2 separate regions of the Homo sapiens genome follow, and region 1 is linked to region 2. The links come from fine-mapping of genetic effects on gene expression. A gene starts in region 2. The other region holds a variant in brackets. All regions are shown on one strand. Distances are from middle to middle. Region 1 overlaps RBM15-AS1 (RBM15 antisense RNA 1). Region 2 holds the start of LAMTOR5 (late endosomal/lysosomal adaptor, MAPK and MTOR activator 5).

Region 1 (17,408 bases), 88 kb before region 2:
CTAGGAGAGTTCACTGCCTGAGGAAGGAAATCCAACCAATCCCCTGCCTGAGAGCCGAGAGCAGCCAGCTCTAAGGCACCTCCTGGAAGATCTTGCAGCCCTCTGGCACTGAGTTCTTTCTTCTCCAACTTCCTACCCCCACATGTTTATAGTCCACACCACATCTAGTTCTCACAGTTCAGAAAGTCCTCCAAGCCAGCCCATCTGAATCCTTTAATGACCTGCTCCTTCCCTGCTTGCTTTCCTTTGCAGAGCCTCCTTCTATCAATACTTTCCCCCTCACATGGAATCCATCCTCACACAGGCCTTTCAGGAGGAAACTTCCCCTGGGCCCCTGACCAGTGTTTCTTTTCAGAGCTTCATCATTTCCCAGGTGGCTGAGGTTGTAGATTTCAAAGCAAGGCCACAGAACGTAAGCTCCGGGCTGGTTTTCACTGCTTCTGCCAGCCCTGCTGCTTACCCTCACACGTCCCTGAAAAGCTTTGGCTGGAACCAGATGCCAATAGGCTAAGGTCCCTGTTGCCTGGCCCTCCACAGCATCCAAACCAGCAAACCAGGGGCTTCCCTGGGGCCGAGTGACCTTCTCTGGGAAGTAGGCCAGAGCTCAGCAAAGTGCTGCCTCTTCAGCCACTGTGACTGTGTGACGCCTGGGCTGAATCCCAAAGAACGAGGGCCCAGCTCTGCGGCTGAGAATCTCAGTAGGGGCAGGGCTACAGGGACCTCCATGGTCAGCAAGCTCAACCTTGTCATTGTCCAGAGGAGGATACTAAGGCCCAAAGAGGCTTGGCAATGTGGATAAGGTAGCAATCTGATAGCAGAGATGTGCTAGGCCATGGTCCTCTCTCCCAGCCCAGGGCTATTTACACCACCCAACAGCTCCTAGTGCCTGGACAAGAAGACTCCAAAGCCCAGCTTCCGATTCTTTCCTTTTGAGTTGCTCTTTGGCTTTCCCAGGGAAGAAGATGGCTGTTTAATTTATTCATCCTTCCAATTTCAGATTAAGAGGGACTGGAAAGAACAGGAGCTATAAGGTAAATACTATTAGTGTCCCTATTTTATAGATGGGGACACTGAGACTTGTAGATATCAAGTATCTTGCCTAAGGTCCCACAGCCAGTACATGGTGGTGCTGGAATTGCAATGCAGGTGACTGGCTCTATCACATTGTGCTGCCAGCACTACACACCTGGTGAATTACCCCTCAACCTGAGAAGCACTTGCTGCTCCTTGGAGCCCTAAAGGATAGGCTGGAATGAGGAAAACTCAGTCTGTCTCCCATCTGGGGTTGGGTAACACAAGCAGTGGCTAGAGTTTAGTAGAGAGGATGTATCCAAAGAGAAATCCCCAAGGAGGCAGAGAGACTCCAAGATTTGAGCAGCTCACCATAGGGATCGAGCCACTTTCTCCAGATGGTCACAGATGAGGATTCTAGCAGCAATTGCAAATGAGAGGAACTTTACCTCTCCTGGTTCCACAGTTCTCTGAGCCTCAGTTCTATTTATTTTTTAATCAGTAAAACTGGGAACTCAAATTACTTGTCCAAGATTCCTTCCTCATCAATAGCAAACAAGTATTGAGCACGGTGCTGAGAGCCTTTACATAGCAGCATCAGCACCCACCATCCCTCCTGGAGAGGAATGGGCAACAAAGTCCTTGCTTCAATGTCTTAGATTAGTTGAGAAAACACATTTTGAAGAGTGCATAAACTGGTCCTTGCTTGCAGGTTCAAGTGGCCCTTCTAACCGTCAGAGTCCATAAATGGAATGGGAATTTGGGGAATGGCTCCTTCCCATTCCATCCTCCAGTTTCCTCCCATTCCAGGCCTATTTCACCTCCCTGATTTCTTAACCCTCAGACTTCAAGAGGCCACGCGAGCCTTCATACACTGCGCATCTTTCTGCAGCAGGACTCTATGGGGGCCAGAGAAGCCTGGGGAGAGGTGGCTCCACGTGCTTTACCCAGAACAGCATTCCTTCAGGTTGAGTTCACCCTGCCCAGACTGACAGCATGGTGGGCATCCACTCTTCGCTTCCATTCTCAAAAAAACATCTGCTTCAACTGTTATCCCAAGCACACAGTCCCCCGACCAGGATGAGAGAGAGCTGGGAAGGAGAAAGAATCGCAATCTGCACACTTGCTTCATTATTCCACTTAATACTCACAGTAGCACCACCAGTTTATAGAAAAGGAAATCAAGTCTGAAAATGACTTACCCAAGGTCCCATGACATATAGATGGAAAACCAGGACACAAAGGCAAATCTGACTCCAAACCTGCCTCCTAACCACTCAGGTATCAGATTTGGCATTCACCCATTCATATCCAGAGAGTTAGCCTTTTATGCACTTCCAAATGGGGGTTTCAGCCCAGCCTAAGGAGAGCCTCAAACTCCTTTAGTGAAGTCCAGGCATTCTCTGAAGCAAACGGCCCCACCCATCCACCGTGGCAGGCCTGGCCTCCCATGGCTCCTCTGTGACATGTAGACTGGGCTGTCCCTGTTACTTGAAACACTTTGCTGGGAAGAGATCCCTTCAGCCTTCTCCCTGAGCCATCGCATGTTATCAGCCTCATCCTTCCTTCCTTCCCCATGCAGGAGGGAGCGACTTTGCCAGTCCAGAGGTCTGAGGTCTCAGCCTTGCCAGGTGACATCTAGGGCCTCATAGCCCTTGCTGGAGAGGTCCTTGCTGGAGAGGCCCTTGCCGGAGAGGCCCAACATGCTCACAACCCTCGGAATGTTTGCAGCTTGGCAGGACTGAGTGACCCAGTTTCCCCGGCAGGGAAGCTCACTTGGCTAGTGGGCTGTGCAGGGTTTGGCATCTGCACGTCTCTCCTGCCCTCTGCTGGTCACCAGGCAGGAGGCTTGCCAGGGCAGGCAATCCCACACTGTGTCCGCTGTGGGAATTGACTCTCAGGCCTGTAAATATTTGCTGAATTAACTGAATGAATGAGTGTATCATGTACAGTTCTAGGCTTTAGGGCCTAAAGTGGCCGAAGAGACAGGAGCTACTCTGGGAAAAGAGTGAATTCTGCTGAGCTGGGCCTGTGTTCCCAGCAGGCCTCCCCCTATACTTTCCTCCTGCGTCCCTGCATAACCAGCTCTCCGCTCCCTCAGAGGCGCTCCCCTCCCTCACAGCGTGCTGCCATTCTAGGATGAATTAGATCTTCCCAGGCCCAGGTCAACTAGTTTCATCACCACCTGACTCGTTACATTTCCTCTACCACATTCCCATGGAGTGGTCTCAAATCTCTGTTTGAATGCCTCCAATGGCAGGCACTCACTATCAGGTAGCCCTTTCCACTTTCCGAGAGCTATAATCAAAAGAATGCTCTTCTTTTTTCACACTAAATCAGCCCTGACACTTCCACTTAGAGACCCAGTTCTTACCTGTTGGTCACTCAGAAGTCTGACCAGGCCACCCTGTGACAGCCTTTCAACTCCTTGAAGACGGCAGTCATATTCCTGAGACTTCTCTTCTCTCCCCGCAAACACACTGGGCTCTCTACTTCCTGCCATTTATCTTAGTAAGTCTGGAAGACTCGGACAATGACTCTCCAGTGGTGGAATTCTAAAAGATGAAGGTATTTTCAGTCTGAAGACTTTCTGCACTTGAACTTAGCCAAAAGGCCAAGAAGCGAGTCTGAAGACCTTCTGAAAGGCAACTTTCTGTCTACTCTAGGAGAAGTCCTAAATCACAAAATGGGATAATTATTTGGCCACAGCTTGCAAATTTACAAAGCTCTTTCATAGGCCACCATCTCAGTGTGTAAAAGTATCATCATCCCAATTTTAGGGATGAAAACAGCAAGGCCTCACAGAGGAAAAATGCTTCACTGGTGATCATACAGGAAGCAAAAGCTAAGTGGTACTCAGACTCAATCTTCTGATTCCAAGTCTACCATTCTTTATACAAAGGCATTGCTGCTTCTGCCTTTTGAGAACGTAAAAAGAAAAAAAAAAGGCAGATAACAAGTATTGAGCACTTACTATATGCCAGACATTGTTCTAAGGGGCTTAATATTTATTAACTTCATGTCCAAAATGACTTTGTAAGGTATGTATGTACACTTATTATTATTCTAATTTTATTTTCCAGGGTTAGTACATTCAAAATCCAGGACACTAACCAGTGCAATTCAGCTCAAGAACTAACACTTAACCACATCACCATGGCTCTCCATGCTTGCCTAAGTTTATACATACATCCATCTTTGTTTCTCTCCTTGCCTCTCATTTATCGGACCAATGATACTGTGGAGAAAGTTAAAGAAGAGTTCCCCAGTGGTGGGAGTGGGGAGACTTTCCTTCCTTTCAAGGCAGTGAACCAGAGGCAGTGAATCCTAGCTCTGCCACTTTTCAGCAAGTGACCTTGGGCCAAGTTATTCAACCTCCCTCCTCTCCTCGGTTTCATCATCTGTAAAATGGAGGTGCCACCAGCACCGACTTCATTGGGTTTCCGTGAGTTATGAGTTAATGTTTTTGTAAAGTGGTTAGAGAAGTGAATTTCTATTACTAAATTTGGACCCTCGGCTGTTTGAGGTGACTGGGGCAAAGTCTAGAGGGTGGGTAAAAGCAGGCACCATCCTGTGGGAACACAGAAGGAAAGAGCCCTGGAGCCCAGACGGAGGATGGGCTGGGGGAGGTGGAGTGGAGAGAGAAACTGATGGAGAACTGGGATGACTTTTGGTGGGATCTGACCCTTTCATGGAGTCACAGTTTCTCTGAGTTAAAAGTATCTTTCTAGGGCATCTAATCCAGCCAAGCAGTGGAGCAGGCACAAGTCTCCAGTCTCAGCCAGAGGCCTTGGAAGATGAAGAATTCCATTTCCTAAGACTGGGGGCACACTGCATTAAAATAAATGACACTTGGTAGGCTGGAGTTGAGGGAGGTTCTCTCTGGCCTCTTGAAGAAACTAGACAGCAGGGATATAAGGTCCAGATGCCTTTACACCTGGCCTCAATTTGGTCTCATATTCTGTTTTCAGGAACAATACAAATCTGTAGCAGAACTACATGAGTTCCAAGCTGATAGCACACTGATAATAATAGCTAATACTTATGAGGGATTCCCATGCACTAGATGCAATTCTGAACGCTCACTTGTGTTAGCTCATTTAATTTTTACATCATTGCTTTAACGGTATTAGCCCCACTTTACCCAGGAGGAAATGGATGCACTGGGAAGTTCAAACACTTGATCATCATCATGCAGCAAGTTGTGATCAAAATCAGAGGATGAGAACCAGACCCTCTGACTCCAGGAGCAGTATTCTTAACTATTATAAAAAGCCAGCCATAGGCGGATCACTTGAGGTCAGGAGTTCAAGACCTCCCTGGCCAACATGGATGGTGAAACTCCGTCTCTACTAAAAATAAAAAAATTAGCCAGTCGTGGTGGCGGGCACCTGTAATCCCAGCTACTCAGGAGGCTGAGGCACGAGAATTGCTTGAACCCGGGGGGCAGAGGTTGCAGTGAGCTGAGATTGCACCACTGCACTCCAGCCTGGGTGACAGCGAGACTCCATCTCAAAAAAAAAAAAAAAAAAAAAAACCCAGCCATTATCCTCATTTCAGAAATTATTGAAATTGTGTATTAAAGAATATTCATTTTGAAAAAGTAACCAAATCTTTAAAGGCTTCAGAGAAGCAGATTTCTCTTGTAGCTTGTGGCAGCATTTTCTCAGAACTGGACGGGGCCACCAGTAGCGTCCTTCATTCCTATATCCGGGTGCTTGTTCCATGCAGTCATGGTATTAGGTTCTGGGGATGCTGCACACAGTGACACACACTCAGTCACTGCCCTGATGGGGTTTTTACAACCTGGTGAGGCAGAGAGATACTGGTCAAATAGTCACACCAACATATAATCCACAACTACAATAAATGCTATGAAGGAAAAGACTAGAATGCTCTAAGAGTGCATTATGGGTAGCAAGAACTGCCCTAGACTGGGGTGTGGGGTGGGGGAGGGATGTGTCAGGAAAAACTTTGCCTGTAGGTTTTTATATAAAAGAATGTCTTTGGGCTGGGTGCAGTGGCTCACGCCTATAATCCCAGCACTTTGGGAGGCTGAGGAGGGAGAATTGCTTGAGCCCAGGAGATTAAGACCAGCCTGGGCAACATAGTGAGACCTTGTCTCTACGAAAACAAAAAATTAATTAGCCAGATATGGTGGCACATGCCTATAGTCCCAGCTACTTGGGAGGCTGAGGTGGGAGGATCACTTGAGCCCAGGAGGTTGAGGCTGCAGTGAGCTATGATCAGCCACTGCACTCCAGCCTAGGTGACAGAGTGAGACCCTATCCCTTAAAAATATATATATTTTTCTAAGGTTATTTCTGAGTTAGTGTAAATAATGGACATGGACTCAAGTTTCAATTAGAGTTTCAATACTTAGACACAGGAAAGCTTCACCAAGAAACTTCTGAGACTGCATAGTCCTGGGGTAAAGAGGGTCAAAAATGCTTCTGGGGTGTCCATAGTGAGCTGGCATGAAGGAATCTTCATTGATCCCAGGAACTTACAGTGCTCTGGCTTTTGTTTCTAGAAATGACAATCCCTACACATTCACGGCATGCCCCACCCAGCCTTTAGTAGCAGAGTGATGTTAGGAGCCCTGGCTGGCTCTGGAGCCAGATGGACATGTGGTAAATTCCTTAATTTCTAGAGTCTTCAGTTTCTACTCTATAAAATGGGTTGATAATAATATCTACTTGCAGGGTTAATGTGAGACATAAATGAGATAAGACATAGGAGGTACCTGAGAATTATGTGGATCGCAGCAAGTGTTCAATCAATGTTAGCTAGTATAGCCTCCAACTCTAACTACAAACGGGCAGGATAGTGAGATGAACCTGTATTTATCTCAAGATAGAACATGGAATTTCATTTCTTTCTAAGCAAACCATTGCTTATTTCCACATCATTGTTTCCTTCTTTTCTTCCTTCCTTTCCTATTTACCTGCCAATTTACATTATCTAATTTTATAAACCTTCATGGGAAAAGGTCACGTGACAAAAAATTGCTTGGTATTTCCTATGTGAAAAGACAAAAGAGAATCAATATGGAAATTGAATTCTGTTCAACATTCCCAATGGTTATTTATAAAATTTACCCAGAGGGAGAGAAAGAATTCTAAATATAAAAATCACATAGAAATTTCCATTTAGGGAGCCCCAAAGTACTTTATTTTTAATGTATTATTATGATTGCAGAGGCTATTGTTAAATTTCAGATGCTGAGGTAACGCTGTGGGGGTGGCAAGAAAACCTGCAGGTGGATTTCACCCACAACATCTCTGGGGCCCGGGGAAGGGGCCCGGGGAAGGGGGTCTTCATGAGTGGCTTTCAGAGCTCAACCACACTCTAAGAAGCTACCTTGATGGTGGCTCCGGGCAGTGCACTTCAGAAATGTTTTTCTCTCTTTCCACATTGGAAATGAATCGATAAAGAAAAATATGACTCCACAGGGGATTCCTGCTTAGGTGTGTCCTGTGTGTGTGTGAAAGCTGCATCCAGATTCCTGACCCTCTGAGGGCAGGAAAGCAGCTCCTGCTCCCCCAGTCTCTAATAGAACACTCTATCACTTATCTCCCTCCCTCGACAATGGCTGGAATGCTGCCTCTCCAGGCAAAAGTAATTGCTAACCATAACTATACTTGACATTTGGACAACACTTTATAGCCACTAATTAGTTAAATGCACACAGCACCCTGTGAGAACCAGAAGGATCCCAGCTCTACTTCGTGGAGGGGAAAGGCCGGGTGGGGAGTAGGACCTCAGATGCAGCTTGAATCAGAGAGGCAATGTTTCCGGGACCTGCTGCCACTCCCTGCCCAGCACCACAAGCTCTGGGCAGCTATTAATAACAAGGATGTTAGTTTTCTTCTCCCTCAGAAAGACAATGAGGTGAAGGTCCCCTAAAGTATTTCTTCTGCTATGGTAATGGTAATACAAACAGTACGGTCAGCAATCTCTGCATCAGTCCGAAGCCCTGGTTAACTGACTACCAAGCACCTTTTGAGCTCTGACTATACATATATCTGTACTTCATCTGTGCTGAATATCGTGGGGAAAAGGCAGGCCTCCATTCCTTCCCTCAAGGAGCTCATAACCTAGCTGCACTGGAGTGGGGCAAAATAGCGGCCATGAAATAATCAGAGGGTAAGTCAACAGGAGAGAATGATGTGGAACGAAGTTTACTGAAGACTGAATGAAGGAAGGACTTGTTGCTCCAGCTCCTGGGAGTGCTGTAAGTGCACAACCAGCAGCTGTCAGCCACTCGGGGATTTCCTCAACTGCAGAGAGCTGCCTTGCCCAAGCTCATGCTCCTTTCCATGGTGGCCCATCCAATGACTGGACAATGCAGAAACATAAAAGCTCATCCGTCTTAGCCCATTGTGGGACAACTCTGAAGGAACATTCTAACTCCAGAGCTCCTCACTGAGTCAGCTGAGGCTGTGTTGGGCCTGTATTGCAGCTCCATTTTTTATCCTTCCCAATTCTAGTTCCTTCTCTTCCCTGCCACAGGTGTCCATCTCAAAGTAACCCCTTAAGAAAAACCCTGCATGCTAAGCTCTGCCTCAGAGTTCACTTCCCAGGGAACCCAATATTAGAAATTTAGATAAATGGACTTCAGTTAGGGGCCCACTCCAGAATTAGGAAAGTGGGATGTGGAACCAACATAAAGGAAGAAGGAAAAATAGGACTTTGTAGCAGATTATTTTCAGAGAGAGAAAAGTCAAAGATAAAAGGTTTTAGTCAGCCTGTGCAACATGGAGAAACCCTGTCTCTACAAAATATACAAAAATTAGATGGGCATGGTGGCGTGTACCTGTAATCCCAGCTACTTGAAGGGCTGAGGTGGGAGGATGGCTTGAGCCCAGGAGGCAGAGGTCACAGTGAGCCGAGATGGCACCACTGCACTCCAGCTTGCGTGACAGAGCAATTCCCTGTCTCAAAGAAAAAAGAAAAGAAAAATGTTTTAGTCTGTTTTTTTAAAAAGTTATCATATTA[CAATAATAAT/C]AATAATAATAATAATAATAATAATAATGGGATGGAGGTTTGTTGTGATAAATTCTCTTTTAGACTTGAGTTGACAACAAAACTTCCAAGTGGAGATATCTTGGGGGTAATTGTGTATATAAAATAAGTCAATTTGGGAGCTATGTTGATTGTTTTTTCCAAAGATGGCCACAACACGTGTTCCCATCCCACATGTTCTTCTATACTGTCAACTGGCCATTGCCCTCATCAAGAAGTGGAGTCTAATTCCTCCCACCCCACCTTGAATCTGGACCACTTGAGACTGCTTCAACTAATTGAGTACAGTAGAGGAGATGTTGTATGACTTCTGAAGCTAGATCAGAAAAGGCCATGAGACTTCTGCCTGGTTCTCTTGAAATGAAGCCATATGTCATGTAAGAAGTCTGACTACCCCCAGACTACCCTGCTGGAGAGGCTGTGTACAGCAGATGACAGCTGGCATCAACTGCCAACCATGCATCTTTATTTACCTTAGCACAGACAAGATAAATAAAGCCCCAACCAACATCCAACTACAACTATGAGGGAGACCTCAAGTGTGAACCACCCAGCAGAGCCCTTCCCAGATTTCTGACCCACAATTGTTTTAAGCTGCTAAGCACTGGAGTAACTTGTTATGTAGCAATAGTAAGGGGGAAAGGGTCATTAGCAGAGAAAAGAATAGAACCTCATCATTCTGTCTTGCACAATACCTTCCTGTCTTCCAGTCTTGCTCCACCCCACTCTGCCCTGCTTCACCTACCCTACCCTATCACTATCTACCTTCCACATAGCCACCAGGGATCCTTCTTAAGCAGTTCCCAGCTAATCTGATCAAATCACTTTTCTTGAAAACCTTCCATGGTCCCTAATGGCTTGTAAAGGTCCTCAGATTACAGTGTGCATTCAAAAGCATCTATATGATACACAGTATGTATCAGTAATCATCTGTGTGATGGTTAATTTTTGTGTCAACTTGATTGAGCCACAGGGCGTCCAGACATTTGGTCAAACATTATTCTGAGTATGTCTGTGAGGGTGTTTCTGGGTAAGACTAACATTTGCCGGGCACAGTGACTCACACCGGTAATCTCAGCACTTTGGGAGGCTGAGGCAGGCAGATCACTTGAGCCCAAGCATTTGAAACCAGCCTGGCCAACATGGGGAAACCCTATCACTACAAAAAATACAAAAATTAGCCGGGTGGGCATGCTGGCAGGCACCTGTAATCCCAGATACTCAAGAGGCTGAGGCACAAGAATCGCTTGGACCTGGGAGGTGGAGGTTGCAGTGAGCTGAGATCACACCACTGCACTCCAGCCTGGGTGACAGAGTGAGGCTCTGTCACAAAACAAACAAAAATACACCTAACATTTGACCTAGTAGACTGAGTAAAGCAGACTGCCCTCCCTAATGTGGGTAAACCTCATCTAATCAATTGAAGACCCAAATAGAACAAAAGGAGTAAAAGGAAACTCCTTCTGCCTGACCACTTGAACTGCACATGGGTCTTTTCCTGCCTTCAGATTCCCACTAAAAAATTGGTTGTTCTTGGGTCTCAAGCCTGCCAACTTTCAGAATGAAACTAACATTGAGGCCAGGTGCGGTGGCTCACACCTGTAATCCCAGCACTTTGGGAGGCTGAGGCGGGCGGATCACCTGAGGTCAGGAGTTCTAGACCAGACTGACCAACATGGAGAAACCCCGTCTCTACTAAAAATACAAAAAATTAGCTGGGTGTGGTGGCACATGCCTGTAATCCCAGCTACTTGGGAGGCTGAGGCAGGAGAATCACTTGAACCCAGGAGGCGGAGGATGTGGTGAGCTGTGATTACGCCATTGCACTCCAGCCTGGGCAGCAAGAGTGAAACTCCATCTCAAAAATAAATAAAAGAAATTAACATCATCAGCTCTCCTGAGTCTCAAGCTAGCTGATTGCAGATCTCGGGACCTCTGAGCCTCTATAATTGCATAAGCCAATTCCTTATAATAAATTATATATATATGTATACACACACAGAGTCATGAGCCACATAATGAAATTTTGGTCAATGACGAACACTGTCTTACAGGACAATGGTCCTATAAGATCATAATACTGTATTTTTGCTATACTTTTTCTAGGTTTAAATATGTTAGATACACAAATACTCCTGTGTTACAATTGCCTACAGTATTTAGTACGTTAACATGCTGTACAGGTGTGTAGCCCAGGAGCAATAGGCTATCCATATAGCCCAAGTGTATAGTGGACTATGCTCTCTGGGTTTCTTTAAATACACTCTATGATGTTTGCAGAACGATGAAATCACCTAATGATGCTTTTCTCAGAATGTATCCCTATTGTTATGTAACACATAGGATCCAGGAATTTGCTTTTTAAAACAACATCCCCAAAACAAAAACAATAAATAAATAAAAATAAAATAAAATGGAAAAAAAAAAACAAGATCCCCAGGTGATTTTGATTTTGATTCTGACACCAGTTGACAAACCTTAACCTACAAAATACAGTCCTTCAGAGCCCATTATTCTACACCCCCTTTTGTTAAACATAAAAATCTCACCACCATCCTCAAGAAGACAATGGTTTTGCTGCAGAACCTCTGGAACTTCTATATTTACCTATATTTATCCAGTTTTCCTAGTTTGAGCTTTAATTTCTGTAATTCATATTATGAAAACAATAATTTTATTCTCATTCTTGTTATATAAATGTATAAAATTGAATCTATAAATTAATATTTTATGTAATGTGGTTTTAAATATGCATGTTTGTAAAATTTATAAGTTAAATTGCAACAGTAGGAATACATTTTTCATATGCAATCCCCCTTCAGATACACATTGTTCCCTTCACCATCCCCTTCCATGCCTCCAGAGAACGTAATACTCTGCCTCACTGTGTTGAAAACCACTACTTTAGCTAGTGAGGGCTCCCTAGAGATCCCTGTTTGTGCTGTTATCTCCACCTGGAAGACTATTTGTTTCTTTGACAAATATTTGTTGAAAATTTAGCACGTGCCAGGCATGGTGCTATGCGATGTACCCCCTCCCCCCATAGAGAAGTAATCGATTCTTTCTCTGAGGGCCACAGGCCCTGAGTGTGCACTTCTATAACAGCCTCTCCACTCCATGATATAGTTAGCTGACTCCTTCACTACACTGTGCAGCCTCTAAGGTCAGGGACTACATCTTGTTCATCTTTGTATCCGTCACTGGCACAGTGCCCAACACCCAGTAGGAACTCAATTAATGTGGAGGAATGAGTTAATAAACCAATGATGATAGTCCAGTGTCTGGCACAGCATAGATGACCAATAAATATTGGTTGAAATGAAATTGAATTGAAAGTGCAGGTCACAGAAACAAGGGCAGAAAGAATTTAAAGAAAGAGGAGTTGTGACACTGTCAAAAAGATACCAAAAGATCAAAGAGGGTTAGCACTGGGGTGAAAAAGAAAGAGAAAACATTGGATTTGATGAAACTGAATTTAATATTAAGTCCTAGCATTAGCAGCGATGGACAAAACATTTATCACAAAACCAACAAGATCAGTATTTAATTGTCTTCAGCGTGTTCATGGTACTTCTTTAAATCCAGTTACTAGGTATGTAAGTTCCTGTGAATGGTGCAGGTTTATTATGCCTCACTCTTTACTACATAGCCAGTTAAAATGCTCACACATAAAGATCTACTCACACTTGAATTTTAGGTTTAACAATAAAATTGTATTTTCTATGAAAAGATGAGACCACCAGCTAAGGTGTGATCACCCCAGATACTTTCTCTCTCCATTCATTCACCAAACAAATGTTTACTGTGCTACATACTGTGCTGAGTAGAGTCCATTCTTCAGCTAACTGTGCAGGTTCTATTTGTAGAACTTGTTTGTGCTTGTGGCGCCATTTAAAACATTTTAAATCCTAGACTTGCCTGGATTCCCAAGGCAGCTTGACTCTTGGGAAATTTCTCTCTCTCTCTCTCTTTTTTTTTTTTTTAAACAGAGTCTCACTCTGTCACCCAGGCTGGAGTGCAGTGGCGTGATCTCGGCTCACTGCCACCTCCACCTCCACCTCCTGGATTCAAGCAATTCTTGTGCCTCAGCCTTCCAAGTAGCTGGGACTACAGGTGTGCACCACCACACCTGGCTAATTTTTGTATTTTTAGTAAAGATGGGATTTCACAGTGTTACCCAGGCTGGTCTCAAACTCCTGACCTCAAGTGATTCGTCTGCCTTGGCTTCCCAAAGTGCTGGGATTACAGGCATGAGCCACCGTGCCTGGCCAATTCTTGGGAAATTTCTCTTAGTACACATTTAGAACACTTCCTGCCATTTGCTGCTTCCAGAAACAGCACTAGCATTGGCATCCAAGTTGTCTCTCTTAAGTAGAAGTGCTGCCCCCAGTAGGTCCTGGTTTATATCCTGTGGTCAAATAAGTTGAGGGCTTCTTTACTGCAGGATTTGACAGTCTTTTATATGAAAATATGTGTGTGGGGGGTAGAGATGGAGGCTTAAATAATATGGTATAAAGTGTTTTCTAAAGTCATTTGACTTTTTACTCAACTTCATTTTATAGGATATTTGAAAATATTATCATAGATTACGTTCATTCATTCACTCAGCAACAATTTTTGTGTGCCAATTATGTGCCTGGCAGTGTGCTGAGACTGGATAAAATGGTGACTAACCAGACATACTGTCCTGACATTATGAAGACTTGGGGGGAGATACACATGAATCAAATGCACTAAACTGTAAATCAAATAATCATAAGAAATATGAAATTGTAATTTTGACAGGTGCAATAAAGAAAAGTCACATTACATGGCCAAATGAGAGCCTATAATAGGGAGCTTCAGTCTGGTCAGGGAAGGCTGCTCTGAGGAGGTGACCTGGGGCTGACATCTAAAGTATGAGTAGGAGTTCACATGGGGATGAGGGTGGAGAAGAGCATTTGCCCCAGGATGGGATAGAAAGAAAGCCAGTGAAAGAATGGAGAGCAAGATGAGGCTAGAATGATAGAAAAGGCCACACCATATAGGGCGCTATAGGCCATGTTGGGAATTTGTTTTTATCCAAGGAGTATGGAAGCCATTCAAATTGCTGAGTGGAGAACTCATCAGAGGTGAGCCAGAGTGAATCTAGGTGAGCTGTTTAAAAAGCTATTGAAGTGGTTCAGGATGGTGGTAACTTAGCCTAAGATGACGGTGGTGGAAGAGATGCTGAAAAAAATCAATTCATGTGTCTAGATCAATCCCTCTTCTACAAAGCAGTTGAACCCACACAGAGCTGGCTTTGTAATAACTCATAGATAACCATTCACTTCTCCAGAAATCTCCCCTCTGTACCTAAAGGATTGGGAATGGGGAAAGAAGTGGTCTGCTGTTACCTCAATTCATTCAAGCAAAGCATTGTGCAGAAACATGTCTTAAAATTAGAGATGTTCTCTGGAACATCTATTATTAGGATCTAAAAAGAGCCCCAGGACTCTCTTTCCAGCCTAACACCCACCTGTAACCATGCACTTTGGGGCCTACCATTTACTCTTCATGACTGCAAGTTTGATTTATGTACCTGGGAATTTCAAAGCTGGGAGGGATTATAGAAGTTATCATCACCCTCAACCATATGCAAAAATTCCTATATTTCTGAAAAACATCTCAAACAAGAGTCAACTCATTCTATACCCAATTATACTAATTATTAGCATCACAAATACAAGTCTTTCATCCTGTCCCCAAGCCTCTGGGGTCTTTAGAGTTTAAGCATCATCTCACAACTGCCCATAGCAATTCCTGACATTCTTACAGTTACCTACTCTCTTATTTACTCACAACAACTCCAGTTTACAGAGGGATTAGGTGCCATGCCCAAGGTTACACACTAAGGACACTTAGAGTCAGCACCCCTCATAAAACATTGCTTGGAATGTAATCAGAATTCTATACTGTGCATTCTGTACTGTCTGGAATGTTACAATGAACACATATAACTGGCCTGGTTTTCCCAGTCTGTGCTGGTCTACTTTCACTAAATTTTTATACTTGACAACTTTTTTTTTTTTGACAGATAAAATTCTATGTATTTATCGCATACAAGATATTTTGAAGGCTTAACTTATAAATATTTATATTTTAATTATTCATTGACTAATTTTTAAGTGTACCTGGTTTTTGTCCCCATATAAGCAAATTCTGGGTAGGAATCATATCATGATTTTCTCCCTGTATTTTAACTATTAGGCACATAAAACATGATTAATAATGATTAATTAGTTGATTTATTAAAGGAAATCACAATTTTATTTTTTTTTTGAAACAGAGTTTCGCTCTGTCACCCAGGCTGGAATGCAGTGACGTGATCTTGGCTCACTGCAACCTCTGCCTCCTGAGCTCAAGTGATTCTCCTGCCTCAGCTTCCCGAGTAGCTGGGACTACAGGTGCCCACCACCATGCGTGGCAAACTTTTGTGTTTTTTGTAGAGACGGGTTTTCGCTATATTGCCCAGGCTGGTCTCGAACTCTTGACCTCAAGCAATCCACCCGCCTCAGCCTCCCAAAGTGCTGGGATTTGAGGTGTCAGCCACCATGCCCTGCCTGGAACTTACAATTTAAAAATTTCATGGCAATACTGCTTTTACTCATGCTACATATATACAAACATTTGCAGAAATCCACTTTTTTGCTTTTTTCTTTTTTGAGACAGAGTCTCTATCTGTCGCCCAGGCTGGAGTGCAGTGGCTCGATCTCAGCTCACTGCAACCTCTGCCTCCTGGGTTGAAGCAATTCTCCTGCCTCACCCCGCTGAGTAGCTGGGATTACAGGCACACACCACCACACCTGGATAATTTTTGTATTTTTAGTAGAGACAGGTTTCCCCATGTTGGCCAGGATGGTCTTGAACTCTTAACCTCAAGGAATCCACCTACCTTGGCCTCCCAGAATGCGGGATTATAGGTGTGAGCCACCGTGCCCAGCCAAAACTCCACTTTTTTTCTACTAGATGATTTACAGCTGTTTCAAGAGGCTGGATTTCTCTAAACTTTGTCTCATCTCGCTAATAGTGGGCTCACAGAAATAGCTTGTGAGATCTCAGAAGTTGATTGCATTTGTGTGACAGACTTGATGTGCTAAAACACCCCAGAAAATATCTGAATCTACCACGTTTTGTCCAACTGAAACACAGTTGGCTGGGAGCAGTGGCTCATGCCTATAATCCCAGCACTTTGGGAGGCCAAGGCAGTCTTCTATGTAATTAATTTTAAAACCATAAAAAAGAAGAGGAAAAAGAAAAAAGAAACACAGTTGGTAACAGATGTACTCATATTCTATCAACTTTATAACCATACCAGTTTTTATAGGTGGGTGGAATTTCAGATGTGAGAGATAGGAAGACTACATAGAATATACTCTGAAGAGCTCTTTAAATTGATATCTCCACCAGACACTAGAAACAGCAAGAGAATTTTGCCTAATACCCAATAAACAGCTGAAAATCAAACTTTTATTGTCTCTGACTGTAGACGCTTTGTCCAATAATTGAGAGTCCCTGAATCTCCATCTCCTTTGCAAAACACCTAAATTTTGCCTCTAAACTGTCCACAATCAAGTGAAATACTCTCTTGTGGTTTCTATAAACTACTGAGGTTAAAGTACCATTCTTGAAGCAGGCAATTAATAACATAGTTATTGTATATTTCTACATTACATTTCTATAGAATTGTCTGCACCACTTGTTATCAACTTTCCCGTTAAAATATTGCACCTATTCACAACAAAGAACAGGAGAATGGATATTGGTTACACAACAAGCAGTGTCATCCACAATATGGAAGTATGACTTAAAATCAAATACTTTGCACAGACTGTGGTGGCAGCCAGGGGATCAATCAGGGTACACATATTATTCTTCTTAAATATTTGTAAAATATATTAGATCTCTAAGCCTCAGTTTCTTTTTCTGAAGAAAAAGGGATTATAAGCCTACCTGTCTCCTGGGGTTGTTGTGAGGGTAAAGTAAGCTAATGTGAGGAAAGTTTTAGTGGAGTGCCTGGCATGTAGTATGTGCTCAATAAAGGCTGGCTTTTATTTGTCAGTGAATGGATCATGTGATGATTTATTTGTTCACATTTCTACTTTGGGAAGGAGAGGCAGCTTCTCAAGACCCATGTCATTTCCAACAACGTGTTTGACATGGGATACAGTGGAAAGTGTCCAGTGGTGGCAGTCAGTGGACTTGAGTTCTGTCCCTTGCAGACTTATGTGCCAAATTGGGAAAGTCACAAAACATAGAATTACAGGACTTGACAGGGAGAGATTCTGTCTAGAGAATCTGGGGCTCCTGAATGGTGCCACTGCTCCTTTCCCTTCAACTCTACTGCCTCC
Region 2 (9,484 bases):
AGCCTCCTGAGTAGCTAGGATTACAGGTGCCTGCCACCATGCCTAATTTTTGTATTTTTAGTAGAGACAGGGTTTCACCATGTTGGTTAGGCTGTCTCACACTCCTTACCTCAAGTGATCTGCCCGCCTTGGCCTCCCAAAGTGCTGGGATTACAAGTGTGAGCCACCATGCCGGGCCTACTTTTTATCATTATTTTAGAGTATACTACTCCTACTTATTAAGACAAGGTTAACTATAAAACAGCCTCAGACAGGTCCTTTAGGAGGTATTCCAGAAGGTATCATCATTACAGGAGATGACAACTCCATGCATGTTACTGCCCTGGATGACCTTCCAGTGGGAGAAGATGTGGAGATAGAAGCCAGTGATATTGATGATCCTGACCCTGTGCAGGCCTAGGCTAATGTGTGTTTCTTCTTTGCTTTTAACAAAAAAGTCTAAAAAGTAAAAAAGTTTAAAAAAAGAATTTTTGTACAGCTGTACAACTGTTTTAAGTGTTATTATAAAGTCAAAAAGTTTTATTGACTCACTCAGAGCAACTTCCAGTGTTGTAAGCTCCATTATGGTAAGTGCCCTATTCAGATATACCTTTTAAAAAATTTCCCTATACCATACTTTTACTGTATCTTCTCTACGTTTAGATACATAAATACCACTGTTATAACTGCCTACATTATTTAGGCTACAAATCTTTGTAGTCTAAGAGCAATACAGCCTAGGTGTGTAATAGGGTGTACCACCTAGGTTTAAGTACACTCTATGATGTTCATACAACAAAACTGCCTGACACATTTCTCAGAACATATCCCCATTGTTAAGCAATGCATGACTGTATGTTTTTTCTTTTTACAAGGCTGTGATAGTAGCAGTTGTATATATATACTTTTTTTCACATATTATTCTGAGGACCATCACTTGGAATATCTTTAGTAATTTTATTGCTTTAGAAGTAATTTTTGGCTGGGTGCAGTGACTCATTCCTGTAATCCCAGCACTTTGGGAGGCTGAGGCGGGCAAATTACTGGAGCCCAGGAGTTCGAGACCAGCCTGGGAAACATGGTGAAACCTCATCTCTACAAAAAAATACAAAAATTAGCTGGGTGTGGTAGTGTACACCTGTAGTCTCAGCTACAACTCGGGAGGCTGAGTTGGGTGAATCGCTTGAGCCCGGTGGGGTTGAAGTCACAGTGACCCATGATCACACCACTGTACTCCAGCCTGGTGCCAGAGCAACACCCTGCCTCAAAAAGAAAAAAAAAAAAAGTAATTTTTATTCTCTGATTAGTTTTCCTTTGTGCTATTTGTTACTTTCTTTTTGTTGGTAAACTGATAGCTTCTGCCAATTCTTATTCTTCATTTAAATAGCATTGTGGCCTGAGAGCACATTAGCTTTAGGGATCAACTTGTCTGTTCCTGTGATTCAAAAGATTAAGAACTTTTCCCAAAGTAGTCTGAATAAGGAATCACTGATGAACACAGGGCCGGCCCCCGCCAATTTTACCAGGAATTTTTCTGAACAAAAAGGAAAGGATCTGCTGAAATCTACTCACCCATTATCTGATTCTAGACACACCACAGGAATATCAGTGGGGTCAGAGGTTAGCTTAGCTGCTTGCTGGGCTAGAACAGATATCACTCCAGCATGCTCATCTGACAGGGTCCCGCGGCCTGGAAAATAGAGATGATATATGTCACCTGATTGCTCATAGAGTATTTCTGCTAAAATAAGCTAGCTGGCTGTTTTAAAATGTCTACAGAATTGTCTTTTTATTAATGTCTGTATTAGTCTGTATATATTATAGTAACTAAATCTCGGGTACAAAAGTACCTATAAATTCTAGGTACGAAAATTAATTACTAAGTGTACTTTACAATATATTTCTGTATATAAAGGCAACACAAAGTTAACTGTACCTGAAACCAAATCAGGTAATAGACATGCCACTATGGCAGAGCATTTGGATGTACTATTACTATACAAAACATTTTGACCAGATCCGATGCCGACGTTTGAGCCTTGAAGGTTTCTTGAAGGAACTCATTTAGTTTTAGATTTCCATACCTGAATTTCAGTCTTTCCATTAGTAAGCCTAGCAAATGCTTCCAAAAATTTACCCTTTTTCTCCCAAATGACTGATCTGCATGTTAAACATAACTGAGTTACACCGATTACCTCTTTCAGTTACCCTTCCAGCAAAAATTCAGAGCTTTAAACATTCCTGCATTAGGAGCAACAAGTCTTGGGTTTACTAGTTGTCACTAATTAACTGAATGCTTTACTTATTTACCTTTCCAAACTTATTTCCTCATGTGTAATTGCTACCATTTATTAAGTATTATGTCTCAGTTCTATGTAAGCATTTTATACATATTATATAACCTTAAAATATCGTGATTAGGCCGGGTGTAGTGGCTCATTCCTGTAATCCCGCACTTTGGGAGGCGGAGGTGGGTGGATCACCTGAGATAAGGAGTTCGAGACCAGCCTGGCCAACATAGTGAAACCCTGTATCTACTAAAAATACAAAAATTATCTGGGCGTGGTGGCAGGCGCCTGTAATCCCAGCTACTCAGGAGGCTGAGGCAGGAGAATTGCCTGAACCTGGGAAATGGAGGTTGCAGTGAGCCAAGATCGTGCCACTGCACTCTAGCCTGGGCGACAGAGCAAGATTTCGTCTCAAAAAAAAAAAAAAAAAAGTGATTAAGAGGCCTCAGGGCCAGACAAAAATCCTAGCTTAACGACTTACTAGCTGCATGACCTCAGGCAAGTTATTTAACCTCTGTGTCTCAGTTTCTTTTTTTATTTTTTGAGACAGAGTCTCGCTCTTGTCATCCAGGCTGGAGTGCAATGGTGCAATCTCGGCTTACTGCAACCTCTGCCTCCCAGGTTCAAGCGATTCTCCTGCCTCAGCCTCCCGAGTAGCTGGGATTACTAGCACCTGCTACCATGCCTGGCTAATTTTTTTTTGCATTTTTAGTAGAGATGTGGTTTCACCATGTTGGCCAGGCTAGTCTCGAACTCCTGACCTCAGGTGATCCACCCGCCTCCGCCTCCCAAAGTGCTGGGATCACAGGTGTGAGCCACCGCATCCGGCCTCTTTTTTTAAATTTTAAAAACATATATATATGTTTATTGTAAAAATAGAGATGGGGGGTCTCACTGTGTTGCACAGGCTGGTCTTGAACTCCTGGGCTCAAGTGATCTGCCCACCTTGGTCTCCCAAAGTGCTGGGATTACAGGCGTGAGACACTGCACCTGGTCCCTCAATTTCTTTTTCTACCTCACTGGGTTGTTATGAGGAATAAAAGAGTATATGTAAAGCACTTACAATGGTGCTTGGCACATAACAGCTCAATAAATATAATTCTATGATTATTACCATTATCAAATAACAACCCAGTGAAGAAAATGAGGGCCTAAAAGGTAGTTTTTTGGTCCACGTTCACACTACTAACAAATGAAAGAGCAAGGGATTGAGACCAGGTATGTCCAACACTGAAATCCCATTTTACTGCCTATTCACTTCTTGTTTAGTGTAGTTGAGCTTCAAAATTGTACACCACCCACCTTGCCGGGTTGTTGTGAAAATTAAAGATAATGTATTTAGAGCCTAGCAGTCTCAGCATATGGCATACATTCAATAAATGGTTAACAGCTGTTATTATCTGAAGTCCTTTCTAGACTCAATTTAAAATGATTCAAATATTATTTTTAGTAGAGACAACTATTTATTGTTATAGGACTGCAAGGAACATCTTCCTTCATAAATACCAACTGAAAAGTTTCAATTTTCTGATACTGTTATTTGGAGATAATCTCTACTCTCAAACTCAGAAAGACCTGGCAAGGTAACAGGAAATAAAAGCTAGAAAATAATAGCACGCTAGGCTCCAAGTCAACATCAGATGCTATGCAATTCATCAAATAGTTGGTATGAGAGATACTTACAACCCAGATTAAGTCCTTGTGAATCTGTGCACAGGACTCCAACAATGGAGGGATTCTTCATTCTAATTCCAGGAACACAAGAGAGTTGAAGTACATAATGGGAGAAAAAGGATTTAAATAAGTACAAACATACAGGTGTTCTATGTACCAGGCATTAAGTGCTTTAAATCAATATTTCTCAATCTTTTTTCATTGTCACACCCTAAGAAAAAAATTAAGTTCTAGGGCCGGGCGCGGTTGCTCACGCCTGTAATCCCAGCACTTTGGGAGGCCCAGGTGGGCGGATCACCTGAGGTCGGGAGTTCAAGACCAGCCTGACCAACATGGAGAAACCCCGTCTCTACTAAAAATACAAAATTAGCCAGGCGTGGTGGCGCATGACTGTAATCCCAGCTACTCGGGAGGCTGAGGCAAGAGAATCGCTTGAACCTGGGAGGCGGAGGTTGCAGTGAGCCGAGATCACGCCATTGCACTCCAGCCTGGAAGACGAGCGAAATTCCGTCTCAAAAAAAGAACACAAAAAATTTAAGTTCTAGTTAATTAATTGAAATAAACCAGTTTCTCTCTGATGAGAGAAAAAAATGTGCTAAGTACTGCTGAGTTCTGGAGGGCCACAAACACTGCGTGAAAAACATCTAGGATGTTTTCACTCTTGTTAAAAACGCATGTTTTAGTACTAACTCATTTAAAACAACTGTTGAAAAACTCAAGTTACCTCCTGGAGGGTAAGTGGAAGCTGAGGGACATCGGTGGGAGGCAGGTGTCTCTCTGTACCCTTTACACTTTTCCAGTTTTGAATTTTACATAGATACTGCTTGTTCGAAAAATTTAAAGAATGATTTTTATCTACTTAAGCACCAAGTAACTGATAGGTTACACACAGGAGATACGTGTTTGTTTACACTGCAGGGCTCGACACTGCACAACTGGCACAATCTTCCCAAAAGTCAACCCGTTTTCTAAAACTTCCGCAGAACCACCCTGACCGTAAAGACGATTTCAACAACGAGATAGGCAGTTTTGGCCCGTGGCCTGGGCCCGGGAGACTCGCTCAAGAGGGAATGTGCGGTGCCCGGCAGGATTTTAATTCCGGGTCACCCGCCCCGCCCTGCGGCCTTGGGTAGAGTTTAGCCCCCTCATCCCGTGTCCCGGGGGTCGCGCGACGTCCCCGAGACGCCCTGGCCGGTACTCGCAGCTCGCGCCTTTCGTTCCGCTCAAGTTCCTCCGCCGCGACCTCAGGACAGGCCGAAGAGGCGCGCACTACTCACGTGTCTTCCAAGTGCTGCTCCAAGGTCGCCTCCATCCCACCCACCGACCACTCCGGCTCAGAACCCAGCGGCACGGCACGTCCTTCTCCACCACAGGCCTCAGTCACTTGACGCGAGCGGGGCGTGGACCGTAACGGCGCCTCCAAAGGGACAAAATTGATCACGGTGCAACGTCCGCGTTCTTTACTGGAAAACATCACTGCGCTTCCGTCGCACAGAGCCTGACGAAGGCTTGGGCTCCCCGCGCGGTGACCGTCGAGGTGACCTGCACCTGGCTCCATGGCGGAACCGGCCGGCACGGATTATTCCCCTCTCGGGAGAGGTCTGCAGCCGGGCCTCAGTGCTTCAGTTCGTGGCCTGGCATTTTGTGTCAGTGTTTTTTAACCTTTGGACCCTAGTTCAACCGACTCCGAGACCTAGGGGACAGATCTTAAGTTTTACAATAACCCAGGGGTCAGACAGGGTCTGATCTAGCCTGTGGGGCAAGTACGGGGAAGACACGGGACCTCTTGGAGGGGGTCAGTAGGCTTGTAGGGGGAAAGACGCACACAGAGACTAAAGGACGAGATGGAGCAAGGTTCAACCCCCTAGCTGAGTGTTGGCAGTGTCGGGATTTTAACGAAGACATTGGTGCTTATTATGGTGAGGGGACTCAGGACAGTTTAGGGGAAGAGAGTGGCATTTGAGTCCTAACTCGTAAGGAAGACTGGGTAGGACTACTTGAAAATAACTTTTAAAAATTAATTATAAAGCTGGTAAAAATAGGAAAACATCTATGGCCCCACTGTCCAAAGACGACTTTTAACTTCTTGGAGAATATCCTTTCAGATAGTTGTCTTTGTAAATGTATACTTTTAATGTTTTTTCGTTTGCCTTTTTAAAATAAATTTTTTGGGGGACAGGGTCTTGCTCTGTTACCCAGGCTGTAGTGCAGTAGAACGATTATAGCTCATTGCAACCCGGACGTCCTGGGTTCAAGCTATCCTCACCTCTCAGCCTCTCGACTGGCTAGGACCACAGCCTCGAGCCATCATGTCTGGCTAATTTTTACGTTTTTTTGTAGAGATGGGGGTCTCGCTGTGTTGTCCAGGCTGGTCTTAAACTCCTTGCTTCAACAGATCCTCCCACTCCAGCCTCCCAAAATGTGATTACAGGCTGAGTCACCACGCCTAGCATGGTTTTTTTTGTTTTGTTTGTTTTGTAAGCAAAATTGACATACATACTGGAGGTACAATTCTGTAGCTGGCCTTCTTTACAGAGTTTAGAATAAATGTCTTTCCATGTCAAGTTTTCACTTACATCCTTTGTAGTAGTTGCAAAATATTCCATTTTATAGCTGTATCTTAATTGTGGATTAAGGTTGGAGTGCAGTGGCACTATCATGGCTTAGTCCAGCCTCAGCCTTCTAGGTTCAAGCGATCTTCCCACCTCAGCCTCCCAAGAAGCTGGGACTACAGGGACCCGCCACCCCACCTAGCTAATTAAAAAAAAAATTGTAGAGATGGAGTCTCAGTGTGTAGCCCAGTCTCAAGTGACCCTCCCTCGTTGGCTTCCCAAAGCGCTGAGATTGCAGGTGAGCCACTGTACTTGGACTTTTTTTTTTTTTTTTGCTTTTGTTTGTTTTTTGTTTTAGCTATTACAATGCTGGTTGAATATCCTCATAGCTAAATATCTGTGCAGTTTTAAAATTTCCTTATAAGTTACTAGAAATGGAATGACTGGGTTAAAGGACATGATCATTTTTTAAGACTCTTGATACATACTTACAAATTGCCTCCCGAAAAAGTGGTGCTAATTTACTCAAATTGGTAAGCCTCACCCCCTCTGTGGATCATTCCTTGCACTAAGTTTCTTCCAACTCTGTCACCTCCAGCTTTTTACTCACAGCCTACCTTCCAATCTGGGGCCCAGCTCCCAGATCGGAAGATACCAGACTTTGGTATTGAACCAAAGTCCAATACACTGCACTGGCATTCAGAGTCCCTTTTTATTCCGCAGCTGTCATAGTGAAGCTTGCAGCTTCCTTGAAATTCCAGTTTGTTTATTTCTTTATTTTTTTGAGACAGAGTCTTGCTCTATCGCCCAGGCTGGAGTGCAGTGGCGCCGTCTCAGCTCACTGCAACCTCTGCCTCCTGGTTCAAGCGATTCTTCTGCCTCAGCCTCCCGAGTAGCTGGGATTACAGGCATGCACCACCACACGTGGCTAATTTTTGTGCTTTTAGTAGAGATGGGGTTTCACCATGTTGGCCAGGCTGGTCTCAAACTCCTGACCTCAAGCGATCCGCCCACCTCAGCCTCCCAAAGTGCTGGGATTATAGGCATGAGCCATTGCACCCAGCCAAAATTCCAGTTTGAATGTTATAATTCAGGGGTCTTGGACTCCTGCTCTAGAGAAATTATTCATGTTAAGTTAGGGGTAACACAGTACAGGCCATATAAGTTTTAGAAAAAGCAGTTTAAAACTTAGCATTAGAAAACATAAGTACTGCCTGGTGAAATGGCACGTGCCTATAATCCCAGCTACTCAGGAGGCTGAGGCAGGAGGATCCCTTGAGCCCAGGAGTTCAAGTCCAGCCTGGGCAATATAGTCTAGTGGCCACATTAAAAAAAGTAAAACAGCCGGGCGCGGTGGCTCACGCCTGTAATCCCAGCACTTTGGGAGGCCGAGGCGGGTGGATCACGAGGTCAGGAGATTGAGACCATCCTGGCTAACACGGTGAAACCCTGTCTCCACTAAAAATACAAAAAATTCTCCGGGTGTGGTGGTGGGCGCCTGTGGTCCCAGCTACTCAGGAGGCTGAGGCAGGAGAATGGTGTGAGCCTGGGAGGCGGAGCTTGCAGTGAGCCGAGATCGCGCCACTGCACTCCAGCCTGGGCGACAGAGCGAGACTCTGTCTCAAAAAAAAAAAAAAAAAAAAAAAAAAAGTAAAACAGGGCAGGGTGCAGTGGCTCACGCCTGTAATCCTAGCACTTTGGGAGGCCGAGATGGGTGGATCAGTTGAGGTCAGGAGTTTGAGACCAGCCTGGCCAACATGGCGAAACCCCATCTCTACTAAAAATACAAAAATTAGCTGGGTGTGATGGTGCGTGCCTGTAGTCCCAGCTACTCAGGAGGCTGAGGCAGGAGGATCGTTTGAACTCGGGAGCTGGAGGTTGCAGTGAGCCGAGATTGAGCCACAGCACTCCAGGCTGTGCTACAGTGTGAGACTGTCTCAAAAAAAAGTAAAACAGATGAAACTAATTTTAATAACATTTTATTTATTCAAACAATATATTCAAAATATTATTTCAACTTGTGATTGATAAAATACTAATGAGATATTTTATATTTTTTCTCCAGTACTGTCTTCAAAATCCAGGGTATATTTTTCAGTTAGCAGCACATTTCAATTCAGACCAGCCGCATTTCAAGTGCTCAGCAGCCACCTGTGGCTAGTGGCCACAGTATTGGCCAGTGTAGCCCAAGGATATCTCAAATTATCTCAAAGCTAGATCAGTGATTAAAGGATTCTCAGGCCAGGCATGGTAGTTTTCAGGCCTGGTATGGTGGTTTACGCCTGTAATCCCCGCACTTTGGGAGGCCTAGGTGGGCGGATGGCTTGAGCCCAGGAGTTTGAGACCAGCCTAGCCAACGTGGGGAGACCCTGTCTCTACCAAAGCACAAAAATTAGCTGGGCATGGTGATGCGCACCTGTGGTCTCAAGTACTTTGTGTGAGGTGGGAGGATCACTTGAGCCCGGGAGGTTGAGGCTGCAGTGAGCTGAGATTGCACAACTGCACTCCAGCCTGGGTGACAGAATGAGACCCTGTCTCAAAAAAAAAAAAGGATTCTCCGAAAGACTGGCGATTGCTTTTTAAGCTATAAGGAAGGCCTTTGAAGGGAAATCAAGTAGGAAGAGGATGATAGCTGGCTCACATGTCCTTGCCACATGGGAGGTGAGAGAGCAGGCTACTCCTTACCACCCCCGCTTTCTCTGCCCTGCTGCTGTCTTGCCCCTGTGCAAGTAGGCAATGGGAGAGGAATAGTATATATAAATTGGGCAAGTGCTAGGGGCTGGAGTGATGGTTGGGGAAAGTATCTGACCCTTGTTTTCTACTTTCTTTAGCTTGTGGGGTATTTAACAATTCTTTGTTCTTAGTTTTGAGTGCTGGCAACCATTTCTGGGGTGACAGGAAAAGTTCCATGACATCCGTATTAGAGCATTTGTTTCATTATATTGTAATTTTTTATGTTTACTTTTGAAAAAGTTCATTCTTTTCTCTTTT

The links.
Region 1: its variant is fine-mapped to the expression of LAMTOR5 in whole blood (INTERVAL, PIP above 0.99).

What each region holds. Positions count from the first base shown.
Region 1 is chr1:110,309,935-110,327,342 of GRCh38, forward strand. It overlaps RBM15-AS1 (RBM15 antisense RNA 1), which reads right to left. Exons shown (of 4, transcript NR_036595.1): 2 at 8,831-8,948. Among named protein-coding and RNA genes, the nearest start is that of RBM15-AS1, 21 kb to the right of the region's middle. The variant CAATAATAAT/C (reference allele first, on the strand shown) is at 9,013.
Region 2 is chr1:110,402,368-110,411,851 of GRCh38, forward strand. It overlaps LAMTOR5 (late endosomal/lysosomal adaptor, MAPK and MTOR activator 5), which reads right to left and starts at 5,327. Exons shown (of 4, transcript NM_001382293.1): 1 at 5,219-5,327; 2 at 3,951-4,012; 3 at 1,552-1,669. The coding sequence starts at 5,253. LAMTOR5-AS1 (LAMTOR5 and SLC16A4 antisense RNA 1) reads left to right here and starts at 5,442. Exons shown (of 3, transcript NR_102697.1): 1 at 5,442-5,587. RefSeq lists an enhancer at 5,269-5,498.